4 linked regions of the Homo sapiens genome follow. The protein of the gene in region 1 purifies or fractionates together with the protein of each later gene. This does not show direct contact. Each region holds a gene or a part of one and is shown in the gene's direction. Other genes may lie near its edges. The genes, in order: FARP2, CCDC88A, PRKCI and CLNS1A.

The links.
Region 2: the proteins of FARP2 (region 1) and CCDC88A purify together in Homo sapiens (affinity purification with mass spectrometry; 2 studies listed by BioGRID and IntAct, with this or other methods). This does not show direct contact.
Region 3: the proteins of FARP2 (region 1) and PRKCI purify together in Homo sapiens (affinity purification with mass spectrometry; 2 studies listed by BioGRID and IntAct, with this or other methods). This does not show direct contact.
Region 4: the proteins of FARP2 (region 1) and CLNS1A purify together in Homo sapiens (affinity purification with mass spectrometry; 3 studies listed by BioGRID and IntAct, with this or other methods). This does not show direct contact.

What each region holds. Positions count from the first base shown.
Region 1 is NC_000002.12:241,352,474-241,359,312, forward strand, and holds the start of FARP2 (FERM, ARHGEF and pleckstrin domain-containing protein 2), read left to right. Parts: upstream 1-3,811; 5' UTR 3,812-3,915; intron 3,916-6,839. UniProt on the Homo sapiens protein: Functions as a guanine nucleotide exchange factor that activates RAC1. May have relatively low activity. Plays a role in the response to class 3 semaphorins and remodeling of the actin cytoskeleton.
Region 2 is NC_000002.12:55,290,842-55,297,870, reverse strand, and holds part of CCDC88A (girdin), read left to right. Parts: intron 1-1,347; coding exon 1,348-1,613; intron 1,614-1,814; coding exon 1,815-2,274; intron 2,275-6,095; coding exon 6,096-6,160; 3' UTR 6,161-6,195; intron 6,196-6,706; 3' UTR 6,707-7,029. UniProt on the Homo sapiens protein: Bifunctional modulator of guanine nucleotide-binding proteins (G proteins). Acts as a non-receptor guanine nucleotide exchange factor which binds to and activates guanine nucleotide-binding protein G(i) alpha subunits.
Region 3 is NC_000003.12:170,225,413-170,232,441, forward strand, and holds part of PRKCI (protein kinase C iota type), read left to right. Parts: intron 1-7,029.
Region 4 is NC_000011.10:77,627,794-77,634,822, reverse strand, and holds part of CLNS1A (methylosome subunit pICln), read left to right. Parts: intron 1-4,923; coding exon 4,924-5,060; intron 5,061-7,029. UniProt on the Homo sapiens protein: Involved in both the assembly of spliceosomal snRNPs and the methylation of Sm proteins.

The sequences.
Region 1 (6,839 bases):
AGTTTTGCTGCTATAATTCTATACTGTTGATTCGTCTGCGATTTTATCTGTTAACCAAATAAAACATAATAGAATTTCCTAATGAGATATATCTTTATACTTAAACAGCTTTTTTAGAGGTGAGTTTTAAAGAAGTCTCTTAATTCTGATGCTAGGTTGTTTTTAAAACCACTATGCAAAGAACTCACCACAAGCCACCTTTTGTAGTGTTCTCCACTAATACTGGTTATCCTGTGCTACAGAGAAAATCAAAGCAGTCATAAGCTCCAGTTTTCGTATTGCAAATAAGACTCTTACCTACAAAATGAGATTCAGTGAACTAATTTGGTTTTTACTCAACCAAATTAAAAATTTTTTTAAGGAAAATTAGCAGTTGGTCTATTCAGAATCAAACCTTTTTATATTTTATACTGCACTTTAGTGTATTTTCTGTCACTGTAGGTATAGAAGATCTGCCTCCCCTGTGGAAATTGGGGTCTGTTGGTGGGCGTGCCCCTGAAGCCTGGCTTGGGTTGAAAAGTGTTCCCGCCCTAAGGCCTTGGTGCCCTGAACCTCTGATGCCTACCGGGTTCTCCTGATTTGAGTTTCCTTTAAATACTCCCTTTTTGAGTAATTTTCTGATGGGAGGAAAGTAGCAGTCATCATCTTTTTGTGTGCAGGCTGTCTCATTTATTTTTAGCCATTGTCGTTTCATTCATTTTGTGTAATATAAACCGTGTGTCATGTCAAAGTGAAAGACATTTCAAATCTGTAGCATAGGCTAGTGGGCAGGTCCGCACAGTCGAAGCCACACCTGGTCTGTTTTCTGTGCACTGTAGCCTTAGTGTCACCTTTCTTCTTGTGTCTCCTTATGGTACACTCCAGCGGTTGCCTTTTTTATCATTTCTACTGAAGTTGGGAAATTCAACCCCAGAAATTGACAGATGAAAGGAGACAATGGTTGTGTAGGGAGATGGAGAAAATGCTTAATCTGAGGATGAGACAGGGTTTTTTCATTTTTGTGGGGGCTAGAAAAAACATAAAATGAGGCAGTTAAATAATAATAGTTAATGAAGGTGTGCTACAGAAAATAATCTGGTGTTCTTGCTAACTTTGCCCTTCACTGTTGCTTAATTGTGAACAGCCAAAAGCTATATGTTATGGCTTATTGTGTGAAGGTAACTAAGAAGTGGTGTTCCATGACTTCAGAGTACATCCATGCGGAGTCCATTATTTGAGTTTGACATTTAATAACTTTGCTGGAAAATCTGTAAAAAAGAAAAACAAGTTTGCTAGTGACTAAGCCCCGCATATGTGAGTGAAAGTACTTCAGGCACGCTGCCTCCTGGTAACAGCTATGCAGGGAGGGAGGACCCACACTGCTACACTTCTGATCCCCTTTGGTTTTACTACCCAAATCTAAATAGATACTTTTGATAATAGATAACTGCTCTTTTACTAAGACATAGTCTCTACCTATAGAAATGTATTTTGAAAACACTTATTTTACACAGCAATTTTGTATCCATTTAAACTAACCTTTTATCAATAAAGCACTATTGTTTAGATATTAAATGAGTATTTCTCTTGGTTATTTGCAAGGGAAAGTTGTGAGGTTTTCTGGGAAAATTCAAAGTCTTGACAACATCTTTGTATAAAATCAAGAAAAATTACTTGAATCAATAGTGTCAGTACTGGACAAGTTTGTACGTATTGGAGATCCAGCCCAAAAGAAAGCACAAAAGATTGGAAAGGAATTATTTACAGGTGATCAGAACATCTACTTAGAAAGTACAAGACATCTGGTGAAAATTAACACTAAGAAGTCAGTGATATCTATTTTCTAATTAGAAAATGTAGTGAGAAAAGAAATCGCATTGATAATAGCAACTACTAAATTACTGGAAATATAAGTGAATGATTGAAATATATCTAGGAAGAAATTTCTAACCTATAAATTTTCAAGAATAGGCTAAGGCGGCTCTGCCACTTGAGTAAAGGAAACTGGAAACCTGAATTGATCTGGGTGGCTGGACACCTACACTCCAAGGCCTCTAGCCTTCTTCCTGCCCACTGGACTGATCATCCCAGGACCACCTTGGGCCCCTTTTACCTTGCTATCAGTGTTTTCTGAGCTTCCTTATAGACAGACCCCTGGATACTGAAACTTGCTCTCTCTAGTTCCTCAGCTGACAGCTGCCACGCCTGCTGCCTTCCCTCCAGACTGCCAGCCTCAGGTCACCAGCACACACCCTGCATCCTACCAGGGGTCAGTACCACCCTCTGGCCAGGCTCTCACCTGCACTATCCCCACCCGGCCCTGCCCGTCTGCAGGCAGGGATCCTCTGTTCTGGGGTGTGTGCACCACTCTGGGCCTGGTGGTGTCATTGGGGGTTGGTTAAAGGAAAAGCCCCAGAGGTGGGTGGCACATGAGGGGAGCATCCCGCACAGCTGAGCCCAGTCTTGGTGTGCCTGGGTCTCAGACCCCATAGTTGTCTCAGGAGAAATGGAGGTTCCCCTGAGCCAGCATTTCTCCTGTCTGGGCTTCTGGGAAACGAAGGGTCAGGTTTCACTCTGGAATCCACAGCACCATAGGAGGAGTCTCTTAAGTGCCCGGGTGTTTCCTGAAGTTAATTATTCCCTCAACAGCCACATGGTGACAGTGGGTGACAGGGCCGGGCTAGGAGAGCACGATGGGTAGGGTCTTGAAGAACACATAGGAGTTCAATGAACTTCTCAAGAGAAGGGAAGTGTGCCACAGCAAGTCAGTCTTCCATTCTCGGGTGGGGGTCCCTAGGCCAGAGGAAGGCCGTCCTGGCCGCCACCACGGAGCAGCCTGTCTCAGCCTTAGCACAGCCTCGCGCGATCCTTCGATGATCCCCTTCGGTCCCTGTAGTCCCACGAGGGATGCAATGCGTTGGAGGAAGGAGGAGGCTGGCAGCCAGGGACTGAGCCAAAGGGTGCAAGGACAGCCGGCAAGGCCCGGGCCAAGACCTATCCCCGCCCAGCGAGCCAGGCCTCGCCCAGCACCTATCCGCGCCCAGCAAGCCTAGGCCTCGCCCAGCACCTATCCGCGCCCAGCAAGCCTAGGCCTCGCCCAGCACCTATCCGCGCCCAGCGAGCCTAGACCTCGCCCAAGACCTAGCCCCGCCCAGCGAGCCGACTCCCCGCCCAGGACCTAGCCCCGCCCAGCGAGCCGACTCCCCGCCCAGGACCTAGCCCCGCCCAGCGAGCCGACTCCCCGCCCAGGACCTAGCCCCGCCCAGCGAGCCGACTCCCCGCCCAGGACCTAGCCCCGCCCAGCGAGCCGACTCCCCGCCCAGGACCTAGCCCCGCCCAGCGAGCCGACTCCCCGCCCAGGACCTAGCCCCGCCCAGCGAGCCGACTCCCCGCCCAGGACCTAGCCCCGCCCAGCGAGCCGACTCCCCGCCCAGGACCTAGCCCCGCCCAGCGAGCCGACTCCCCGCCCAGGACCTAGCCCCGCCCAGCGAGCCGACTCCCCGCCCAGGACCTAGCCCCACCCAACGAGCCGACTCCCCGCCCAAGATCTAGCCCCGCCCAGCGAGCCTTGGCTTCGCCTAGGACATTGCCTCGCTCAGCAAGCCGACGCCCCGCCCAACGAGCCGAGCGCTGCACAGATTTATATCCTACGCAGCTGCCTGCCTGCTCCCGCCCCTTCTCCGTCCGTTCACCAATCAGAACTCGATCTTGCGCTTTCAGGCCGCGGGACGGGAAGGCTCCGCCCTGGCGCCCCGCAGGCCAATCGACTGCGCGTCCGCGTCGCGGGGGCGGGGTCAGGGCGGGGCGCGCTGCGCGGGGGCTGCCGGCGGGCAGTTGGGAGCAGGCGACGCCGACGCGAGTCTGGCGGCTGCTGCTTGCGACTGCGGAGGCCGGGCGAGGCCGGTGAGGACGCGGCGGGCGAGCGAGAGGCCGAGGGTGAGGACGTGAAGCGGCCTGGGCGCGTGGGGCAGGGGTGGGCCTCTCCGGGTGGGCGGCGAAGCCCGAGGCCCGAGGCGAGAGGCCCAGGCGGGGGGGGCGCTGAGGCCGCGGTCCACCAGAGATGGTCCCGCCCGGCCTCTGAAGGCCATCGTGAGGCGGCTGGAGCTCCTAGGCGGGTCCGGGTTAGAGGAGCGTCCGTCTGTAGGGAGCCTGCCGCGTGGGGGCAGGCGGGGCGGTGGGCCGGGGAGTGGCCCGCGTGGACTCCCGGGTTGAGGGGTGCCGCGTGGAGGAGGCCGGTGGGGCTGTAGACCGGGGAGTGTCCCGCGTGGACTCGCGGGTTGAGTTGTGCCCCGTGGAGGCCGGCAGGGCCGTGGGCCGGGGAGTGTCCCATCCCGGAAGGACACCCCAGAGTGGGCCATAGGGACCCGCAGGGTATGGGCCTGGAGGTGCCTGGTGGAGGCATTTTGAGCCGTTTGCCTTTTTAGCATTTCTTTAAATTGTATCTTAAAGGTGGGAATCAAGTGTTAGGTGTTAATATTTTTACTCCACTAAGGGCTAGAAATACTCATAAGCCAGTGGGTAGCCTTTGGGAAACCCATGAAAACTGGGGACCAGAATATGGCCCAGTACATTACACACCCGAATTACGGGCACCTTTTCCGTTTACGCTATGGCAGCAACCCCTGGCCTATCATGTGCCATTAATGGATGTGAAAAGCAGAAATTAGAACAAGGCATCATTGAAGGAAAGATTGTCAATACATAGTGTTAAAAAGGGATGGGCAAATTTAAAACCCAAGGCCAAATCTTTAAAGGGTGGTTTTTCTCTCTGGGTTTTTGTTTTTGTTTTGTTTCCGTGGGATATTTTTGTCTGGGCCACTGTGTAAATGTTTGATAACCCTGAGGTGGCAGTGGGTTAGCGTGTTGGTCTTGTGTAGACTGCCTTATAACAGGCGACACAGATTTTCTCAGTACCAGAGAGATGGGAGAGGACATTTGAGGTAGGGAAGCATGGAGTAACCTTTACTTGTAGGCCAAATATAATTTAAATTTTCTACATCTGCTTGTTGAAAGTTTTGTTTTGTTTTGTTTTTTGAGGTCCTTAAAGGTTTAGGAAGCACTTCATGCTCGTTATTTATTCAGTTTTCCAAAACTCTTCAGAGACATGACCAAGTTGCACAGCCCCGTTTTAAAGTAGAGGAAAGGGAGGTTGAGAGAGGTGGAATGACCAGTTTAGGGTCACACCTAGGGTACTTGCAAATACCATCTGTACTTCTCATGTGCCCTATCCTTGTTGCAGATTCTCATTAGGTGGTTCACTGTTAACAAACTAAATGCTGATGATGCAGTTTCCTGGACTGCAGACGTTTGCTGGCTTATTTACCTATAGGACTATCAGTCGTTAGTAAATTTCCAGGTTCCTTGTATACTAATTCCTTTCCCAAAGAGGAAGTTGATATAAGGTGTATTCATTTCTCTCTGCCTCAGGTTCCTTATTCAAAAAATGAGTTTAAAATTTACTTGGCCAGGCACAGTGGCTGTAATCCCAGCACTTTGGGAGGCCGAGGCAGGCAGATTGCATGAGCTCAGGGGTTCCAGACCAGCCTGCTCAACAGGGCGAAACCCCATCTCTACTAAAAATACAAAAATTAGCTGGGCTGGTGGCGCACGCCTGTAATCATAGCTACTTGAGAGGCTGAGGCACGAGAATCACTTGAACCCAGGAGGTGGAGGTTGCATTGAGCCAAGATTGTGCCACTGCACTTCATCCTGGGCGACAGAGCGAGACTCTGTCTCAAAAAAATAAAAAAATAAATAAAAAAAGCTGTGTTAACAAGATGCCTGGCACAAGGTAAGTGCTTAATAAATGTTAGCCATTATTATTATCAGGTGGACAAATAATCCGAGTAGAAAGTAGAACAAGCTAACCCTGGATATTTACAAAAAACAGTAGAGAAAAAATTAGGCAATAATTAAGCAAATTTATCCTGTTTAGAGGGAATGGTATGAACTGGATTGCCAAAGCAAAGATCAATGCATGGGCAATTCCATGTGAGCTCATTTAAATCCATTTGGCCCAAAGAATTCAGTTGCTTCCTTCCTTTCCAAACACCCCTGCTTCTAGTCACATCAATACCTCTTCTATATTCGGACAGTAACAGATTTTTCTTACTGCTGCTTGTCCTTTCAGTTTTGTTCTTATTTTTCCTTCACCCACTTTCATATCAGCTTGCCAGCTTCCCCTTTACTCAGTGCGTCATGAGCTTCATAAACACAGCATAGTGCTAGATATACAGGCAAAACCCCATTGTAGTGTTGGATACTGAGCTGAGGTAATTCCGGTCATGTTCTCTGAGATCAGAATATAGAGTCCTTTGACCATAGCGTATTTGTCAATGCCACAGGGAGTTGAAAAGTTGAGGATCCTACAAAGCAATATGATAAAGCCCAGTCTTTGGTGATTTTCTGGGGAGCGTTTAGTTGACAGTGATTCTATAAATTGGTCTAATCTTTTTGGAAAGTAGCAGTATGTGGCAAAGATTTTGATTTTGGAATCACACTTTTCAAAACAATCTGATAAACTTTGTTGTGTCAGTAGGGTAGAGTACTCCATAGCAAGTAAACATGCTTCCACAAGCTGAATCCCATCCTCCCATCCAAGGAAAATTTGAACCATTTTGATCCATGGAAATATGCTTTAAAATGTGACTTAACTGAAAAGTTGAAATGGTGTGTACACAGCAATCATAGTGTTGTAAAAATACATGAGGAGGTGAACAGGATCAGGAGGGTAGTTAGAGTGTTGTAAGTGGTTTTATTTTAAGAGTCATGAATTGTTTTCCCCTAAACTGGTGTTTTAGCTTATTGCCATTTTAAAATTCAAAAACAAAAAGGCCCTATAATGTTGTAGGATGCAGTGA
Region 2 (7,029 bases), about 190 Mb from region 1:
ATTTTTTTAAATGTTTAAAGTTATCCATGCAGGATGAACAGAGAAGCCTTCAAGTAGTAATGAGGACTTCTTAGATAAGCAAATAATTAAAATAGAATTTTCTGCATTTAGAACAGTTTTTGGTCTTAACATACTGAAATAATATAAAATTCACCTAATGAGCCAGGTGCGGTGGCTCACACCTGTAATCCCAGCACTTTGTGAGGCCGAGGTGGGCAGATCACCTGAGGTCAGGAGTTACAGACCAACCTGGCCAACATGGTGAAGCCCCGTCTCTACTAAAAGTACAAAAATTAGCCTGGCATGGGGGCGCATGCCTGTAATCCCAGCTACTTGGGAGGCAGAGGCAAGAGAATCACTTGAACCCAGGAGGCGGGGGTTGTAGTGAGCTGAGATCGTGCCACTGCATTCCAGCCTGGGTGACACAGTGAGACCCCATCTCAAAAAAAAAAAATACACACATATGTATATTTATATATAATATATATTTATATATAATATATATTATATATATTTATATATAATATATAAATTTATATATTATATATTATATATTTATATATAATTATATATAAATTATATATATTATATATAATATATATAAAAATACACATTAGATGAAATATATATATATATTTTGTCTAATCATGTTCTTATCCTAAATTGTGAGGCATTTTATTTTATTTATTTTTATTGTTGAGACAGAGTCTCAGGCCAGAGTGCAGTGGCGCGATCTCTGCTCACTGCAACCTCCACCCCCCCAGTATCAAGCAATTCTCCTGCCTCAGCCTCCTGAGTAGCTGGGACTACAGGCGTGCACCAGCACGCCTGGCAAATTTTTTGTATTTTTAGTAGAGACGGGGTTTCTCCATATTGGCCACGCTGGTCTCCAACTCCTGACCTCGTGATCCGCCTGCTTCGGCCTTCCAAAGTGTTGGGATTACAGGCGTGAGCCACCACGCCTGGCCTGCAAGGCATTTTATAACTATTTGAACCTGAATTTTAAAAAATATATTATTCACTTATTTATTCATTCATTTACTCAAAAAATATATTGAATGCTTTGTATGAGGCTCTGTTTAGGCTCTGAGTATGATAGTAAAAGCAAGTCTTTGCCCTTATGGAGCTTACAATAGTTGTCAGTTTGACAAAATAAGGAAGCAGGCTATGGCAGACAATTGTTAGACTGATAAAAGATTGACATGGTTTACTAAGCATTTCTAAATAAAGCTTGAAAGTAAATTTGGCTGTTCATATAATTAGCACACAGTCAACAAATGTTATTACTCATGAAGTATTAATCTCAATTCTATTATTGAAATCTCAACACCCCATTTACTCCAAAAGCAGGTGCAGTTAATAACCAAAGCAGGCCACAAAGCCACAGCAGTGGAGAATTTAGCCTGCTTCATGACCATGAGGCTTGGTCCAGCAGTGGTAGCAGTCCAATCCAGTACTTGAAAAGACAGACCAGATCAAGCCCAGTGCTCCAGCACAAAATATCTGAAACACTGGAGAGTCGACATCACAAGATCAAAACTGGTTCCCCTGGAAGTGAAGTTGTTACTCTACAACAGTTTTTGGAAGAAAGCAATAAGCTTACCTCAGTACAGGTTAGTTTTATCTATGATGACCTTAATTTAGATGAACACCACAAGTTAAATTTCTGTAATTGAACTTCAGAGCTTTTTTTTTTTGGTAAGTTAAGGAGTATTAAGAGGTACCACAATTTTATATTGCACAGTCTGCTAAATCAGGAAAGTAAAAACATGGCACTATATTCACTAATCTGCTTTGAATTTTTTTTTAAACAGATAAAGTCCTCAAGTCAAGAGAATCTTTTAGATGAAGTAATGAAAAGTTTGTCTGTCTCTTCTGACTTTTTGGGAAAAGACAAACCAGTTAGCTGTGGTCTGGCCAGGTCAGTAAGTGGAAAAACCCCAGGGGACTTCTATGATAGACGGACAACTAAGCCTGAGTTTTTGAGACCTGGTCCTCGAAAAACTGAAGATACCTACTTCATTAGTTCTGCGGGAAAACCTACACCAGGCACTCAAGGAAAAATAAAATTAGTAAAAGAATCTTCTCTGTCACGACAATCAAAAGATAGTAACCCTTATGCAACTTTACCTCGTGCAAGCAGCGTGATCTCAACTGCCGAAGGAACTACACGAAGGACAAGCATCCATGATTTTTTGACCAAGGACAGTAGACTGCCTATATCAGTTGATTCACCACCAGCTGCTGCTGACAGCAACACCACTGCAGCATCTAGTGAGTACCATTTACACCAGTGGTCCTCTCATATACTTGACATCCCAACACATACTATAGGTTCTTGTGCCCAAAATGATTTAGCTATAGACATGCCTGAGCCTCTATATGCCCAGGCTAGAAACTCAAGAACAGGAAGGTCACATTTTCTAAACCAAACTTTTGCCACTATTAGGATGCCTAGTGATGCATTCGGAATGTTGGCAAAAGATAGCATAGGACCATTTACTGTGGCCCATTCATCTCAGCCATTCTTATCCCTGAATACAGAATTAGTTAGTAACATAAGTGGGTTACCTCCTAGGCCAGTTATCAGAATAACTGACCAGGCTTCTGCCTCTTTGGATAAACCTGCACAGAAAGAAAATGAACAGTTTTCTGATCATCAGAACCCTAGTAACAGTAACCTACAGTTTTCTATAAATAGCAACAATCTTGTCACTTCTGCATGCCTCTATCCTGATGACACAGAAGCTGCATTGTTGGTTTCTGAGGATAATCAAACTGTTTGGTATGAATATGGTTGTATATGATCAAAACTGCACAATATAATATATTGATGTTATTTGATATACACTGCTTCTCTAATATGATTTGAAAAGTTGCTGTTAACAAAATATCATTTGGCTAGGTTTTTATTTTTTATTTAAAATTGTTGCACAGTGTTCAGCTGTACATGATGGCATGTATATTAATGTGAATGTGTAACCACACCAAAACCTGCATGAAATATTAATTACTTTGTCCATTTTCTGCATGCCTTTAAAAACCTTAACCATACATGCTCCTCCTTCACATTTTTTGTTGCCTGATAAGATTGTTACTTTGATATCCAGAAGCATGTTAAAACAGTTGCATGCTCTCTTACCAAGAAGACATTTCCAAGTCATATTTGCTTTGTTGCTTCTGGAAAAAAATGTTCATTTCCTCCCTCCCTTCCTCCTCTTCCCACCCCTCACTTGCTCTGACTGTCACTCCTTTTTTTCTTCCAGAATGTGTACTTTATATTACATATGTACAGTATCAGTAGGGAAAATGTAAAAAGATGTTGTTTTCTTTTGTCATTTAATTAGGCCATCTGTCCTGTTTTAAAGAAATAGTTAATAATTCAACACTTTATATAACAAATATTAACTAATACCCATATTTATAAAACATTTTTCAGATTTAAAAGATTGTTAATACTTATAAACTTAGTGTTATTCTTAGAAAACCCCATCAAATTTAAATGTGATTTACACAGTGACTAGGAACATTTGTATTTATTGTTTCTTCTCTGCACTTTTCATCATCTGATAAATACAAGAGCTCAAGTAACTGTCTTTTCTTCAAGATGGCTTCTATACTTGAAATCAGTTAATACAATAGTTTTTCCAGTTCTTTTTTTATAGAGAGTCAAAGAGAAATAAACCAAATTATATTCATTGTGTTGGAAATTTGTATTTTTACTTCTAATCAAAAAGGGTAGCAAGTTTACAAAGTGGTAAAAATTGTTACTTCTATAATTAATCTATTATTAAATTATACATGTATATCCTTAAAACAGAATTTTTTTTAAATGAATAATCACACTAAAATGTAAAATTAGAACTTGTAACCATTTAAACAAGTATGTTTCTAGTAGAACAAATTTTAGAACTAAGAATAAATACACTCTTTAGCTTAAAAAAAAAAAAAAAAGTAAGAAAATATTTGTTAACTTTGACTCCAGTGCAAAGAACTTTTATTTTTGTGTTCACAGCACTTTTAAAGCAAATTAGCTAAATTTGAATCTCTAACTCCCAGATTGCTAAAAACAAAAAAACCCATAACCCTGATCCATTTACTTCCAGAGAAATACACATTGGCATTCTCTCTGGAATGTTTTTTGCCATTTGGATTTAGCCTATAGCTGATAAGGACTCAGCCTGGCACCTGGAAGGAATGCCTTCAAATGTGACCATGTGGGGATGAAATTATGTTATACTTGTTGTTGTTGTTGTTGTATTAAGTGGTTATTAACTGGACCAAAGAAAAAATCTGTAGAGAATATTTCCTAATGAAATTTGTCTCCTTTGTAATCACACTTTTTTTCCGATAGCTATTACAAAAAAAAAAAAAAATGGTTCTGGTACAGGTAATCAAATGAACACAATCAGAGGATTGTCATATTTTAGTACCACCTAATATACTTTTTGCATCCTTCTATTTTATTGTCAGTTACTTCCCAGTCAGTCCTGACATTTCAAATATATTTGGTGCTAATATTTTCCCTTTTGTTTTTTCATAGGCCAGTAACAAAACTTAATAGTAAACATAGCTGAGATTAAATGGGGGCAGTATATGACACAAATGTTATAATTAGTGTTATTTCTTTTCCACACTGAGTCAAAGATTATTTCACAGCTATTTCAACTTTTTAGATATCATAATTCTGACCATAACACTTCAAAATATTGTATTTATTCATTCAAAATTCATTGAAAAATCACATGCTATTATATTAAAATTATGTGATTATTTTACAAAATTAGACTTACAGAAAAGAACTATTTCCTACCCAAAAAGCTATATGTTTATATGCAGCATGTTTCCAAAAAAAAAAAAAATACACTGTGCATATAAGAGAAATATGTATCATGTCCATGTGTCCTGAGGACTGTTGGAAAATACAGTCTGGACTTCAGAAATCATCACCTGCTGTGGAGTCATAAAATTCCCCCCAAAACACCACTAGTTCTTTTTGTTTGTTTGTTTGAGATGGAATCTCACTCTGTAGCCTAGGCTGGAGTACAGTGGCGTGATATCATCTCACTGAAACCTCTGCCTCCTGGATTCAGGCAATTCTCCTGCCTCAGCCTCCCAAGCAGCTGGGATTACAGGAGCATGCCACCACGCCCAGCAAATTTTTGTATTTTTAGTAGAGACGGTGTTTCACCATGTTGGCCAAGCTAGTCTCCAACTCCTGACCAGCTTCCCAAAGTGCTGGGATTACAGGCGTGAGCCACTGCGACTGGCCACAACACTAGTTCTTATCAACGTTTTTTCATAGCATTTGGAATCAAATTTTTAGTGGTGAAAATACCTTAGAAATCATATGGAACCGATGTGTCCCAAACATTTAAGAAAAAAAACAATACTTTCTGTAAGTGAAATCTTACATAGATGCCCCAAATTTTAAAAAATGAATTTCATTTAAAGTAAAAGTGAAACAACTCTGACTCAATTGAGCAATTGCACTTATTTCCTCTAAGACACCTCCAGTTTTCAAAAGGATTATTTGTAAAACTATTCGAAGATTCAGTACCCTAATTTTATAAATGATGAAGCTGGATAGCTTTCAGTATTCCTGGCCTAGCTTTCTAGAAATTATAAACATATTCTTATGCACTGCATCCCCTTTGACCAAAGCAATTTTAGCTTTAACCAATGTAAGGAGGAACATTATTTGCCTATAAAATATGCATCAAGCCCTGGTTTTCTTAGTAAATAATACAAATACTTCATTCCAGATGGTTTTGCTACTACATGCAAGATTATGTTTAAGACTGTAGGTGACCATTTAGTAAATAAACATAGTAAGGCTATCTGGCACTAAGAGGGGGGGAAATGTAATTGTTATAGTTTTTTTAAAAATTATAGCTTTCCTAGGAATATTACTTATAGCTTTAAAATATAAAAATCGATCTTTAAGTATTGAGATGCCTATGAGATTAATAATTTTCCCAGACAGTTACAGATTCCTTCTCCTTGCCCTACTCAGTGAGAGTGTATTTCTTATCTTCTGAATTGTATTTTGTTTCATCTTTGACTAAATAACATGAAATGCTTTTCTCCTGCAGATGTGGACAAAGTACAAGAAAGCAGAAATTCAAAAAGCAGGTCTAGGGAGCAACAAAGCTCCTAATTCTATTACCCACTACATGACATGTGGGCCAAGTGGTGAGTTTCCTGCTTAAAATGTAAATGAGATTAGTCTCATTTATACAAACTAACCAAATTAAGTGTGAAACAAGTGCACATTGCATTAACAGATGTAAATATTGCTTGCTTAATTCATTGACTTTCTGTTCTACTTACTAGTGAAGCAAGATTAGTTGGCTGCCATAGGTTTTTACCTGTCAGCGCAAGGAACAAGTATTTTTTTTTAAGTTTTTTTGTCACTTTAAATTTAATTTTACTAGTGAATTATGTTCTAGGAATTACTTTTTTAGTTTGAAGCCTTTTGTGGTAGGAATACAACTTCCCCACAGTTTTCTTGAAAATTAATGACTAAATGCCTATTCTATGATGAGCCACTCAAAAATTATCTCTGATTGTCTGTCATTCTCATTCTTATAGAAATACCTGGTGCATGCTGTTCTTATAGTGGCTGCTCTGTATTTTGTGTCTCTCTTATCTTTAAGCTTTTCTTATATTTTCTTTCTTCTTTCTACCTTCCAACTAAATACAGAGAGAAAAGTGTCCTTCAGTTTCTCAGTATGAAGCCTTTATTTCTGAAGTAACAAGACACCTAGCAACTATAGGAATCATTTTTAAAAATCTTTAAGGAGACTTTTAACAGTCCTTCGTGAATAGAGCAGGCAAGAAATACAAACCTTCATTCCTTGAATCAAGGAGCACTACTGGATTCAACTGCCAAAATTTTTTAAAGGTTTTAGGACTTACTATACCTTGTACTGTTAAGATCTACTGAATAAAGGACGTTCTCTCACTAAGGACCAGGTGTTTTAAGGTTAAGTGTTTAAAGAAGTACTCCAAGAACAATCTGCTTTT
Region 3 (7,029 bases), on another chromosome or scaffold:
GCTAACTAGAACACCTACCTGATTTTAAAATAGAAAATCCTTCCTTTATACCAAGAAATGTGAGAACATTCTGCATTTGAAAAAGTTTTCTTTTCTCTCCAATCTTCTGAAGGGCCATTATTACATAGCATTTCCTCTATCCCTCTACACTTTTCTTTTCTTTTTTTTTTTTTTAAATAGAGACAAGGTCTCACCGTGTTGCCCAGGCTAATCCCAAACTCCTGGGCTCAAGTGATCCTCCTGCCTCAGCCTCTCAAAGTGCTGGGATTACAGGTGTGAGCCACTGTACCTGGCTCCACTACCCTTTTCTAACAATATTTCTTTCCAGTGAATGTTGACTCATTTAATAGCCAGCATTTTTTTTAGTGAAAAAATTGCCCTCTCTTTTCAAAGATGTGTATAGTGTTATTATTCTGTTAAGCTTGATCTCAGTGAAAACGTGTAATCTCTCTAGATCTAATAACATTTAATTTTTTTCTAATTTTTATTTTATTTTATTTTATTTATTTATTTTTTTGGAGATGGAGTCTCGCTCTGTCACCTGGGCTGGAGTGCAGTGGCGTGATCTCGGCTCATTGCAACCTCCGCCTCCCAGGTTCAAGGGATTCTCCTGCGGCTGCCTCCCGAGTAGGTGGGACTACAGGCGCCCACCACCACGCCCAGCTAATTTTTGTATTTTAGTAGAGACGGGTTTTCACCATGTTGGCCAGGTTGGTCTCCCAACTTCTGACCTCAAGTGATCCACCCACCTCGGTCTCCCAAAGTGTTGGGATTACAGGAATGAGCCATCTTGCCCAGCCAATTTACATCTAGTTTTTAAGCAAGAGATTAATAGCACTGAAAATTCAATTTTATTGGACACCACATCTTACTTAGATGCCTTTCTCATGGCCTGCACCCGTCTTTTCCTAGCAAGGAAGCTTTTCAGTGAGGGGCCTTCAGTTATTACCTAGTGCTAGTAGTTTGGAGGAAGAGAAACAGGTTTCATTAATTAGTGATAAACTGTCAATGTATGTGCTTATCCTTATATAAAATTACTTGCTATTATGGGATAGACTTTAACAAGGCAACATCTGGACTGCTCATTTCTTTACATTATATATGTATGGAAATTTTTGCAGAAAGCTTGTGAAAGTTCTTTTTAAACCGCTGCTGTCAAGTAGTAATAACAATACAGAGGATTCCTTCTGTGCACATCTAGAAATAAAAGATTAACTCTTTGCATATTTGGAATAGCTGCTTCAGTGAAGAAGTATGTAGGATTTTTCTTACTGTGAACAAGTCTTGGCAAGACTTGTTTTTGAAAGAAATGCAAGATTATTTTAGCAATATACTTTAGTAATGGTTCTGAGGAAATACAAGTGGTATCTTGAGGGTTGGGGGGATGTTAGCTAATTGGTCTTAGAGCTTCAGCCATGGCACCTAATCCTAGGGCAGCTGATCCATAGCTTGGCCAAAGAGAGAAAAAAATAGAGCATGCTAGCCTGGTGCCAAAAAACCCAAACCAAACACAAAAAACCCTCAGAAATTTGAATGAGAAAATATGGAGATAAAATTGGTCAGCACTGGGAACTGAAGCTGGAGTTGGAGGGAGAGTCTGGCGAGGCCAGAACTGACAATGTGCAAATGAAAGATGTGAAGAAGCAGAAACTGAGGAAGCAAAGGAGAAAGGAGCAACTCTGCACAGAAAAATTCTCCCCACAGGTCCTTAGTTCATGATGGCTTTCTAATGCAACTGCAGCCCTCCTTTTACAACTTTAGTGTCTGTTTTTTTTATGATTGAAATGAGCCTAATTTAAACATAGATTTTAAAAATTCCAGTCTTGCTTAAGATTTCAAATATAACCAGAGATCATTCAAACTGAGTTTAGTAAATATTGTTGAACGTCCGTAATCCAGGCACATGATGCTGTCGTAGGCACAGAGAATGTAGAGGTAGGTAAGGCTCTGCCTTTAAGGAATTAAGAGACTTGTGGAGGGAAGGACATATAAGAGTTACAATAGAAACAATTTAATTTGAAGTACCTATGTAAGGTATTTGCAGGAATAGACGTTGGGGAGGAGTTTGGGGTGATGGAAGCCTTCCTAGAGGAAATGTCTGAGGCTTTTAAAGGATAACTAGGAGTTTGCCTGGTGAATAATGATGTTAGGTGGGTGTTATAGGCATTAAACAACCACATGGTAAGTTTGCAGAATTAAGATCACTTTGGCTGTTAGTCTCATATTCATTCCTTATTAGGATATAAAGTATGAAGTGGGCACTGATGAGAAATGAGGCTAAGAAAGTTCACAGGGGCTAGATTGTAAAGACCCTTGAATGTCATACTGCAGAGTTTAGACTTTTTCTCATTGATGAAAATTCTAAGTAAGAGAAATACATGATCAGATTTGCATTTTAGAAAGATAACACTTGAAATTAGTATGGGAGATGGATTGGTGATGGATGAAACTAATTTGGAGGCTTTTGAAGTAGTCCAGATGAGATATTTTAAGGAGAGAGAAAAGAGTGTATGGATTCGGTGGAAATTTTAAGGGGTAGTATCAGTAGAATTAAAGATAGTCTTGTAGGGGTGACGGGAGTTGGACAACTCATAGGTTTCTCGTTTAAGAGAGACTGGGGAATGTGGAAGAGATTTGTGGGAGAAGTTAATTAATTGGCTGGAACAATTCACTGAATTTTGAGTTCTAGGTGTTTATGAGGCATTCAGGAGGAAATGTCAGAAAGAATGGAGCAATTATTTATTGTCTGTCTACTCTGTGTTGCAAGCACTGTGCTTGACAGCTAACCTATGTAGGAATGTGGCTGAGAACGATAATAGAAACAAAAATGACACCAGTGGCCAAATACAGATCACAAAGGCAAGGCACTAAAACTAAATTTTAAAAATATAGAAATACAGAAAGAGGCTGGGTATGGTGGTTCATGCCTGTAATCCCAGCACTTTGGGAGGTCAGGGCAGGTGAATCACTTGAGCCCAGGAATTGGAGACCAGCCTGGGCTGAATGTGGTGAAACCCTATCTCTACAAAAAAATTAGCCTGTAGTCCTAGCTACTAGGAGGGCGAGGTGGGAGAATCACCTGAGGCCAGGAAGTCAAGGCTGCAGTGAGCTGTGATTGCACCACTGCACTCCAGCCTGGGCAACAGAGTGAGACCCTGTCTCACACACACACAGACATACACACACACAAATATATATATATATACACACACACACACACACACACACATATACATACACACACATATAAAGTTCCCCTGTAGTCTCTCACTCCCACCTTATTTTATTTTATTAGTTTATTTTTATATATTTAAAGGGTACAAGTGCAGATTTCTTTCTTTCTTACATGTTTGTATCATGTAGCCATGAAGTCTGGTCACTTAGTGTACCCATCACCGGAACAGTAAACAGTAAAACCCAGAAAATTACCTGTACCCGATAGGTATTTTTCAACCCTCACCCCCCTCCCACCTTTTGTAGTCTCCAATGTCTACTATTCCCTCTTTATGTCCATGTGTACCCTTTGTTTAGCTCTCACTTATAAGTGAGAATATGTGGTATCTGGCTTTTTGTTTCTGATTTTTTTGACTAGGGATAATGGCCTTCAGTTCCATCCATGCTGGTGTAGAAGACGTGATTTCATTATTTTTTATGGCTGTCTCACTCCCACTTTCTAGAGATAGCCATTGTTAACAGTTAGGGATATTCTATATCATATCGGTATATTTATAAGTATAGATATGTATGTGCATACACACACACAGACATACCCTTTTATTTTTCCAATAAATGAGTTCATATTTCCACACATGCATCTGCAACTTGATTTTAAAAATCGTGGTCATCTTTTCATTCCAGGGTAGACAGACCTCTTTATAGTTGGTAATACAGTGTTCTACAGTTGTTGTTGTTGTTTTAAGAGACAGAGTCTGATTCTGTTGCCTACGCTGGAGTGCAGTGGCATGATCTAGGCCCTCTGCAGCCTCAACCACTCTGGGTTCAAGCAGTCCTCCCACCTCAGCCTCCTGAGTAGCTAGGATTAGCTCACGCCACTAGGCTCAGCTAATTTTTTTTAATATGTTTTGTAGGGACGGGGCTGGTCTCAAGCTCCTGTGCTCAAGTGATTCTCCTGCCTCGGCCTCTCAAAGTGTAGAAATTACAGGCATGAGCCATTGCGCCCAGCCACCATAATATGTTTAATCTTTTTTCGGATTGATGAACATTTAAAGTTGTCTTCATCAACTCACTATTTCAAATAATGTTGAAGGAACCTCCTTATATTTAATACATATTCTTGTAAATATGGTCAAAGATATGCCTATCTTGAAATATGATATTGTTTCCCAAAAGAGCTTAATTTACATTCTTAACAACAGGACTAGTGAAGCTTCTGCCTTATATTCCCATTGCATGTTATCTGTCTTTTAAATTTTTGACTGTCAGATTGGCAAAAAATGGTAATTTATTTTTACAAGTATCTTTTATATATTAATGATCATTTGTATTTCTTCTGGATTGTTCCTATTTTACCCATTTTCTATTGTATTATTTTTCTTATTAATTTGTTGACAGGACATTGACATTTTGTTAAAGTTGCCAGCATTTCCCCAATCTGTTGCTAGTCTGGAGTTTTTCGTTTTTATGTCATCAAACCTGTCCTTTTTAAAAATTTCCTTGATAGTTTCTGGATTTACTGTCTTAGGTAAAAGTGTTTTTCATCTAAAAATATTCTATTTTTCTTCTATTATGCAACTTTTTTTTTTTTTTTTTTGAGACAGAGTCTTGCTTTGTTGCCCAGGGTAGAACCCAGTGGCGTGATCTCGTCTTACTGCAACCTTTGCCTCCTGGGTTCTAACAATCCTCCTGCCTCAGCCTCCTAAGTAGCTGGGATTATAGGCGCACGCCACAACACCCGGCTAATTTTTGTTTGTTTTTTGAGACAAGGTCTTGCTCAGTCGCCCAGGCTGGAGTGCAGTGGCACGATCCTGGCTCACTGCAGCCTCTGCCTCCTGGGTTGAAGTGATTCTCCTGCCTCAGCCTCCCAAGTAGCTGGGATTACAGGCATGCGCCACCATGTCCGGCTAATTTTTTATTTTTAGTAGAGACAGGGTTTTGCCATGTTGGCCAGGCTGGTCCCAAACTCGTGACCTCAAGTGATTCACCCGCTGTGGCCTCCCGAAGTGCTGGGATTTTAGGCGTGAGCCACTGCGCCTGGCTTATTATGAAACTTTTAAAGTGATTATCTTTTCAGTGAATCTGGTATTTTGGGGTTTAGTCATTTATAGGGTACTGACACAACTTTTTTTTTCTCCAAAATTTATTCTAATACCATTATTGGGCAGATTGTCCTTTCACCACTGATTTGAAATGGTAACTCTGTTATGTACTAAATTTCCCACAATGTGCGTAGGTACTTTCTATTGTTTCATTGATTTTAGGGGAGAGATCTATTTTTGCACATACCACTATTGGTTTAATTATTGTAATATTATAGTTAACTTTGATATATGTTATGGAATGGCTTGATTCATTATTTAATTTTTTTTTTTTGTTTTTTTTTTTTTTGAGATGGAGCCTTGCACTGTCACCCAGGCTGGAGCGCAGTGGCGTGATCTTGGCTCACTGCAACCTCCGCCTCCCAGGTTCAAGCGATTCTCCAGTCTCAGTCTCTCAAGTAGCTGGGATTACAGGCAAGGCGCTACCATGCCTGGCTAATTTTTGTATTTTTAGTGAAAATGGGGTTTCACCATGTTGGCCAGGCTGGTCTGGAACTCCTTACCTCAGGTGATCCATCTGCCTCGGCCTCCCGGAGTGTTGAGATTACAGGCTTGAGCCACCGTGCCCGGCCTATTCCTATATATTTTATAATCATGTGCTTTTGTGAATGGGGTCTTCTTGTAGACCTATTACATACTGTTTTCTTTTTGTATGTTTAAATTAAACTTTCCACCTTACTAATAATTTAACTGTCTTAGAATTTTTAAGCTAGATAATGTCATCTGCAAGTAGCAATTTTGCCTCTTCTTTTCTATATCTTATTTATTTATTTATTATTTATTTTATGTTTTTTGAGACAGAGTCTCACTCTGTCGCCCAGGCTGGAGTGTAGTGGCGTGATCTCGGCTCACTGCAACCTCCGCGTCCCAAGTTCAAGTGATTCTCCTGCCTCAGCCTCCTGAGTAGCTAGGATTACAGGCGTGCACCACCACACCTGGCTAATTTTTGTAGTTTTAGTAGAGATGGGGATTCGCCATGTTGGCCAGACTGGTCTCGAACGCCTGACCTCAGGTAATCCACCCACCTTGGCCTCCCAAAGTGCTAGGATTACAGGTGTGAGCCACTGCGCCCAGCCTTATTTATTTTTAGCCATAGGCTAGAATTTTCTAGACAGTATTGAATTATAGTAATAATCTCTTATCTTAGTGAAATATAATAGAAAAATTTCTGTCAATTAAAGAAAAAAGCTTTTAAAGAATTAAAGTTAGTGTTATTCAGAAATGTTACTGAGGCCGAGTGTGGTGGCTCACGCCTGTAATTGTGCCACTGCACTTCAACCTGGGTGACAGAGCGAGACTCTGTCTCAAAAAAAACTCAACTGAAAAAAGTGGAACAAAAGAAAAAGAACCATGATAAGTATTTTGCACTTTTTTTTTTTTTGAGGCACATTTCTACTCTGTCACCCAGGCTGAGTACAGTGGTGTAATCACAGCTCACTGCAGCCTTAACTGCCCAGGCTCACGCAGTCCTCCTACCTCAGCCTCCCAAGTAGTTGGGACTGTAGGCACACACCACTATGTCTGGCTAATTTTTAATTTTTTTGTAGAGACAAGGTCTCCCTGTGTTGCCCAGGCAGGCCTCGAACTCCTGTACCGAAGCGATCCTCCCACATTGGCCTTTCAAAGTGCTGGGATTATGGCATGAGCCACCTTGCCTGGCTGCACTCATTTATTTTCATTTATTTTTCATTTTTTGAGTCAGTGTCTTCCTCCATCACCCAGGCTAGAGTGCAATGACATAGTCACAGCTCAC
Region 4 (7,029 bases), on another chromosome or scaffold:
ACCTTGTCTCTGAAAAAAATTAAACATTATTTGTTTCAGCTTTTCACAAACAAATCTCTTATGTTTCTTCTTTAAGATTTTTTTTTTTTTTTTTTTTTTGAGACAGAGTCTTGTTCTGTCGCCCAGGCTGGAGTGCAGTGGCGCGACCTTGGCTCACTGCAAGCTCCGCCTCCCGGGTTTAAGCGATTCTCCTGCCTCAGCCTCCTGAGTAGCTGGGACTACAGACGTGCTCCACCACGCCCAGCTAATTTTTGTATTTTTAGTAGAGACGGGGTTTCACCATGTTGGCCAGGCTGGTCTCAAATTCCTGACCTCATGATCCACCCACCTTGGCCTCCCAAAGTGCTGGGATTACAGGCATGAGCCACCGTGCCCGGCCAAAATAATTTTTTTGTGTGTGAAACATAAATACAAAAAAAGGGTATAAATACACACACATACTGTGTACATATATATACAGTCCAGCCGTTCTTCATCTGAGGGAGTGAGGGAGAATGCCCAGAGATGATAAAGCTGGAGAAGGAGAGAGTCATGTTCATAAATTTGGCTTATAGCCTTTAGGCTTTGGTGAAACTATTTAGTTTGAGGCAGAGAGGGACAGCAACAGATTAGGTTTGGCTGGACTTGGTTTAGTCTCTCAGATTTGTGTTGAAAGATTTAGAATCTCCGGCTTATTTCAGAGCTTAGTTTTTTATAGGAAGTTGAATTTTTTTTTTTTTTTGAGATGAAGTTTCACTCTTGTTGCCCAGGCTGGAATGCAATGGCGCAATCTTGGCTCACCGCAACCTCCGCCTCCTGAGTTCAAGCTATTCTTTTGCCTCACCCTCCCGAGTAGCTGGGATTAACAGGCATGCACCACCATGCCTGGCTAATTTTGTATTTTTAGCAGAGATGGGATTTCTCCATGTTGGTCAGACTTGTCTCAAACTCCCGAACTTAGATGATCCATCTGCCTCGGCCTCCCAAGATGCTGGGATTATAGGTGTTAGCCACTGCACCCGGCCAGGAAGTTGAATTTTTATCCAAATAAGGAAGATACAGAGGCATGAATAATATAAAATAGACAGTTTAAAACAGGTAAAATAGGTAATCAAATTAAAATTAGGTAATTTAAACTTAAAATTTTTTTTTTGTATCTCATTCCAAAATTAATCTTAAACCAAATAATTAAGTTAACCCAAATTCAAGACCTCTCTTAGCTTCCTGTCCTGTTTTTCATCCCGTGCTGGGAATAAAGGACACTCACCATACTTGTGCAAAAGCATTTGAATTCAGCAAAACATGTTCTCTACATGTTTACTCTGTGTCTAATTCTTCTTGTCTTTCCCTTTTGACTCACGGTTTCTTTGGAACTGGGTATGATTAATTAAATGTTTTAGAAGGATTTCTTCTAGAATATATACAAAGAGTAAATGCAAATCAGAATTTAATGATCAGACAAAACAGTTATATTTTTAGATGATACAGTGAAATCTTTTATGTTTCTCTACATCACTTTGAAAGTTAGAACTTGAATACTTTCAGTAGATTTATTACAATCATCCCAGCAAACTTTAATGGCAGCATGTCTGGCCTATTTCATCGTGGCCTCTGCTAGAATTAGAAAATCTGGTGGTGGTGCAACAAATAATTCATGTGCAATAGGATTTAATTTGTTGTTAATAGGTATTTGTTCAAATTAAAATTGCCAGATTAAATGAATGTACTGTCAAATCTCTTTTTTTTTTTTTTTTTTTTTGAGATGGAGTCTCCCCGTTGCCCAGGCTTGAGTGTGGTAGCGTGATCTTGGTTCACTGCAACCTCCGCCTCCTGGATTCAACCAATTCTCCTGCCTCAGCCTCCCAAGTAGCTGGGATTACAGGTGCCTGCCACCACACCCAGCTAATTTTCGTATTTTTAATAGAGACAGGGTTTCGCCATGTTGGTAGTCTGGTCTGGAACTCCTGACCTCAGGTGATCCATCCACCTCGGCCTCCCAAAATGCTCCCAAAATTATAGGCCTGAGCCACCACGCTCGGCTTATAATGTCAAATCTTTTTTAACATAGTAACATGCTGTTGGAAAAAATAAGTTGTTGAAAGTAAGTTGTTTTCCCATTTAAAAATATCTGTGAATATTAATATATGATTTGCATTTGTAAATCTGAAAAAGTAAAATACAGAAACCTAGGGTTTCTTTTCTTTTTTTATTTAAAAAAAAAAGAATTTAACGATTAGAATAAGTGTTTTTAAGTGTGGAACTTGGCTTCTGTCCTATAGAATGCATAATCCCAGTTCATGTAAAAGATTATGAGAGTTCCATAGCAAATGCTGTGCAGAGGAGCATTTGTATTCTCTCTGCACTAGTAAGGAATTACAGAGGTATTATGATGGCTTTTAAAAGTGAAGGCCATAATTTGATAGGCACTCATTCTATGTTTAGGTTTCAGTTTTTCCATGTCGTCATTGAGTCATTCAAGTTTTATGGCTCTGGATATTTGAAATTATTTTGGACACCCAAATTTGGAATGTTTCTTTCTGAATTGTGATAACGCCAGAAAATTTTTGAGATCAGAAAAGGGCAGTTTATTTGCTTTAAAATAATACAGCTTTTGTAGGGGACTCGTGATACTTGGGCATTATTTCCTCTCCACATTAAAAGGAAAGCAGTGGGCAGGAAAGATGCATACAGCACATAACCTCATTACATAATACAATGTTTCTTTGGAACCAGTAGGAATGAGTTGTTCTGGAAAACAATTTGTAGAGGTTTTATCACTTTTAGCTCTTTAAGATTTATCACTTTTAGGCCAGGCGCAGTGGCTCACGCCTGTAATACTGGCACTTTGGGAGGCCGAGGTGGCAGATCACCTGAGGTCGGGAGTTTGAGACCAGCCTGGCCGTCATGGCAAAACCCCATCTCTATTAAAAATACAAAAATTAGCGAGGCGTGGTGTCACACGCTTGTAATCCCAGCTACTTGGGAGGCTGAGGCAGGAGAATCGCCTGAACCCTGGAGGTGGAGATTGCAGTGAGCCAAGATCATGCTACTGCACTCCAGCCTGGGTGACAGAGTGAGACTTCATCTCAAAAAAACAAAGATTTATCACTTATAAGCTTCCTAGTTTTCCTTTACTTTTTTTTTTTTAATAAGAATGTTGGATAGAAATCTTTCCACATGACAGTGCATATATTCTTACTTTTGCCTTTTGAAAGTATACAATTAGGGGCAGGGTGTGGTGGCTCATGCCTATAATCCCAGCACTTTGGGAGGCCGAGGCGGGTGGATCACGAGGTCAGGAGATCCAGACCATCCTGGCTAACACGGTGAAACCCCGTCTCTAAAAATACAAAAAATTAGCCGGGTGTGGTGGCGGGCGCCTGTAGTCCCAGCTACTGGGGAGGCTGAGGCAAGAGAATGGCGTGAACCCGAGAGGCGGAGCTTGCAGCGAGCCGAGATCCGCCACTGCACTCCAGCCTGGGCGACAGACCGAGACTCTGTCTAAAAAAAAAAAAAAAAGTATACAATTACGTAAGTTTTAGTATATTTACAGAGTTGTACAGTTATCACCACAATCTAATAATCTGCCTTTGTTTTTGGTAATGCTTTCGGTAACTGAGGGTCATGTGGTTAGACATTGATTTCATTTAGGGGAACTGAGGTGGAAAGTTCATCCTCCCCTTCCACTGAACATGAGTGATCTCAGACTGTCACACTGTCATTGTTCCTGCCCAAGGCAGTCCTAGGTTCTCCTGTTTTACTTTTGTTTTTGCTTGGTTAGAAATTAGACAGCCAGGCTTGTTAAAATTGTATAGAATATAGAATGATACAGGGGTCTTACTTCATTAACTTTTAAAAATAATTCATATAGCATACAGTTTAACCATTTAAACATACAATTCACTAGTTTTTAGTCTGTTTACAGAATTGTGCAATTATCACCACCATTTTAGAATATTTTCTTCACCCCAAAAAGAACCTGGTACCCAGTAGCAGACATTCCCTATTTCCTTCTAGCCCTAGGCAACCACTATATTGCATTAACATTTTTTTTTTGACTTCTTCAGGATTTTTTACTTTTTTTCTGCTAAGTGGTACAGCTCCAGATGGATGAAGTATTATCAGAAAATTAGCTAGCCTCTACTGAAAGCTCAAAATACTGATTTTGGTGATGTGTTTCCTTTGTTACACCAATAAAATATTTGCATTTGACCACATTTGAGGGAAAACTAGATCTAGCTTTTCTGTGGCTTTCTCTTAAAGACGTTGAATAAATGAAAGGCTTCAGGGAATCTGTCTCTCAGGGTAATAATTATTTCCTGACTTGCGGTGAGTGTGATTACAGCCATTTCATATATATGTCTTTTAGTGTAGGATTCATGGAGAAATGCATGATTACCAAGGATTTATTGCATACTTAACTCCTGAGCTCTTTGTTAACGGTTTTGAAGGATGTTAATAAAGGAATGTGACAAGTTCTGCTGTCCGATAGTTCACATTCCATAAGGGCACATATAAGACTCATTACCACAGAGTTAAGTGCTAAAATTTGCAAATCAGAAAAGGAAGAGATCTTTATGGACTGGTGTAGTTGAAGGGAGGCCTCATGGAAGAGGGGAGGATTTGCAAAAGCAAAGAGGGTATTTGAAGACATACCAAAAAAGAGTAAGCATGAAAGTCATAGAAACATACATGTGACTGAGGAAAATGGAATTTCAAGTCTGTTTGAATTTATAGCTAGAGGGAAAGAGACCGTAACAGAATTGATCTTAAAGAAAACTCAGTTTCCACTACTGAATTTTCTTATTTTATGAACGTTTCTAAAAAAGTAAACTTGAATTTATTTATATGCATAAAGGTGTCCAAGCTGAACTTTTATATACTTTGTGGTCTTACATGAGGATTTACTTTCTAAAAATAATCTACTTAAAACATGTTTTTCAGCCGCCTGTCTTGGTTAGATGGCTCTGGATTAGGATTCTCACTGGAATACCCCACCATTAGTTTACATGCATTATCCAGGGACCGAAGTGACTGTCTAGGAGAGCATTTGTATGTTATGGTGAATGCCAAATTTGAAGGTATGTATGGTGTAATTTAATCTAATGCCTCCTTTGATAGCAAATTATATTTTAAAAAAGAGTCTTTGAGGCCGGGCACGGTGGCTCACGCCTGTAATCCCAGCACTCTGGGAGGCCGAGGCGGGCGGATCACAAGGTCAGGAGATCGAGACCATCCTGGCTAATACGGTGAAAACCCGTCTCTACTAAAAAATACAAAAAATTAGCCAGGCGTGGTGGTGGGCGCCTGTAGTCCCAGCTACTCAGGAGACTGAGGCAGGAGAATGGTGTGAACCTGGGAGGTGGAGCTTGTAGTGAGCCGAGATCATGCCACTGCACTCCAGCCTGGGCGACAAAGTGAGACTCCGTCTAAAAAAAAAAAAAGAAAAAAAAGAGTCTTTGATAATAATCAATGTAACATTGAGGCCATTGACTCATTTTGGGTAGTAGTTTATTAAGCAAAATTTCAGCACAGCAACTTGGACACTTGAAGTTTTCACAATGGATGTTCATGTGTGTCTGTATATATTTCTCTATATTTACACTTAGAATTCTTCATTTATTATGGATATGTATTTCTAGCTTTTCCTCTAAAGTTTCACTGTTTATTCTGCCTTTCTCTTTTTAAAAGGCACCCTTAGGGGCTTGGATCAGTATACCCTGTGCTTCTCATAATTTAAGATAGAACTGTTTTGTTTTGTTTCAGTAGTGGGTCTCAGTGGTTGTAGGGGGGATATATTTTCCATGGGCCTCCACCAACCTCACCATTCCCCCACATTTGGCAGTGACATTTTGGTTGAAAGAGGAAGGGTATTATTGGTGTCTAGCAGTTAGATGCCAAGGATGCTATTATTATACTAAATATTCTGCTATGCACAGATGGTCCCCCACAACAAAGAATTATTCCATCCAAATGTCAGTAGTGCCAAGGTTGAGAAACTGTAGGATATAAAGATTCTCAAGTTTTGCTTTGGGATAATTGCAAAGACTTGTAAAAGTCTAGTGAAGATGCTCATGTTTAAAATAACGGGTTGCTTTTCTTTGAAGTAGTGTGTAAGAGACAATCCTATGAAGTTACCTACAAGGCTATTGCTCTTTCAAATTTAGATTTTAATATGGTTCCAGATATAATATGATCATTTATATTCAGGTGTGAAACTATTTAGTAATTCTTAGGACTTTTGGCAAGACCTGCCTCATTAAGTGGTAATGACTGATTCAGCTATCTGAAAATATTTTTGTTATAAGATTTCAAATTCTTGCCATTGGAAAAGGTTCAAAGACATTTAAAAATCTAGTGAAGTTTGAAAAAGAGGATGAGGAAAAGTAAAAGGCTGTTAACCTTGGGGTGTAGTAGTGTAGTAAGACTTCCTAATAAGGCATTTGGCACAAAATTTACTCTCCATCTAAGTAAATGCAACTATGATTTTATAACCAAGAATATTATGTGTCATGTTTAGTTTAAAGCATTCATTCATTTGCAGAAATGCGAAACCTTGCTCTTGTCAGTCAACTCCAGATGCTGGTGTGAAATGGCCCCAAATAGTGACGGCCATTGGAGGTGGGAAAGGTACATGCCAAGAGAAAGGCTTAGGAAATAGCATTTAATAAATACTAGCCTAAGGGCAAAAGCACATTGAATAAGAAAACTCTGTCATTAGGCCGGGCACAGTGGCTCAAACCTGTAATCCCAACACTTTGGGAGGCCAAGGGGGGCAGATCACAAGGTCAAGAGATCGAGACCATCCTGGCCAACATGGTGAAACCCTGTCTCTACTAAAAATACAAAAATTAGCTGGGCGTGGTGGCGGGTGCCTGTAATCCCAGCTACTCGGGAGGCTGAGACATGAGAATCACTTGAACCCGGGAGGTGGAGGTTGCAGTGAGCTGAGATCGCGCCACTGCACTCCAGCCTGGGCAACAGAGCAAAACGGTCGAAGAAAAGAAAAAAAAGTAAGAACTCTGTCATTAACTTGCTAGGCAAGTCATT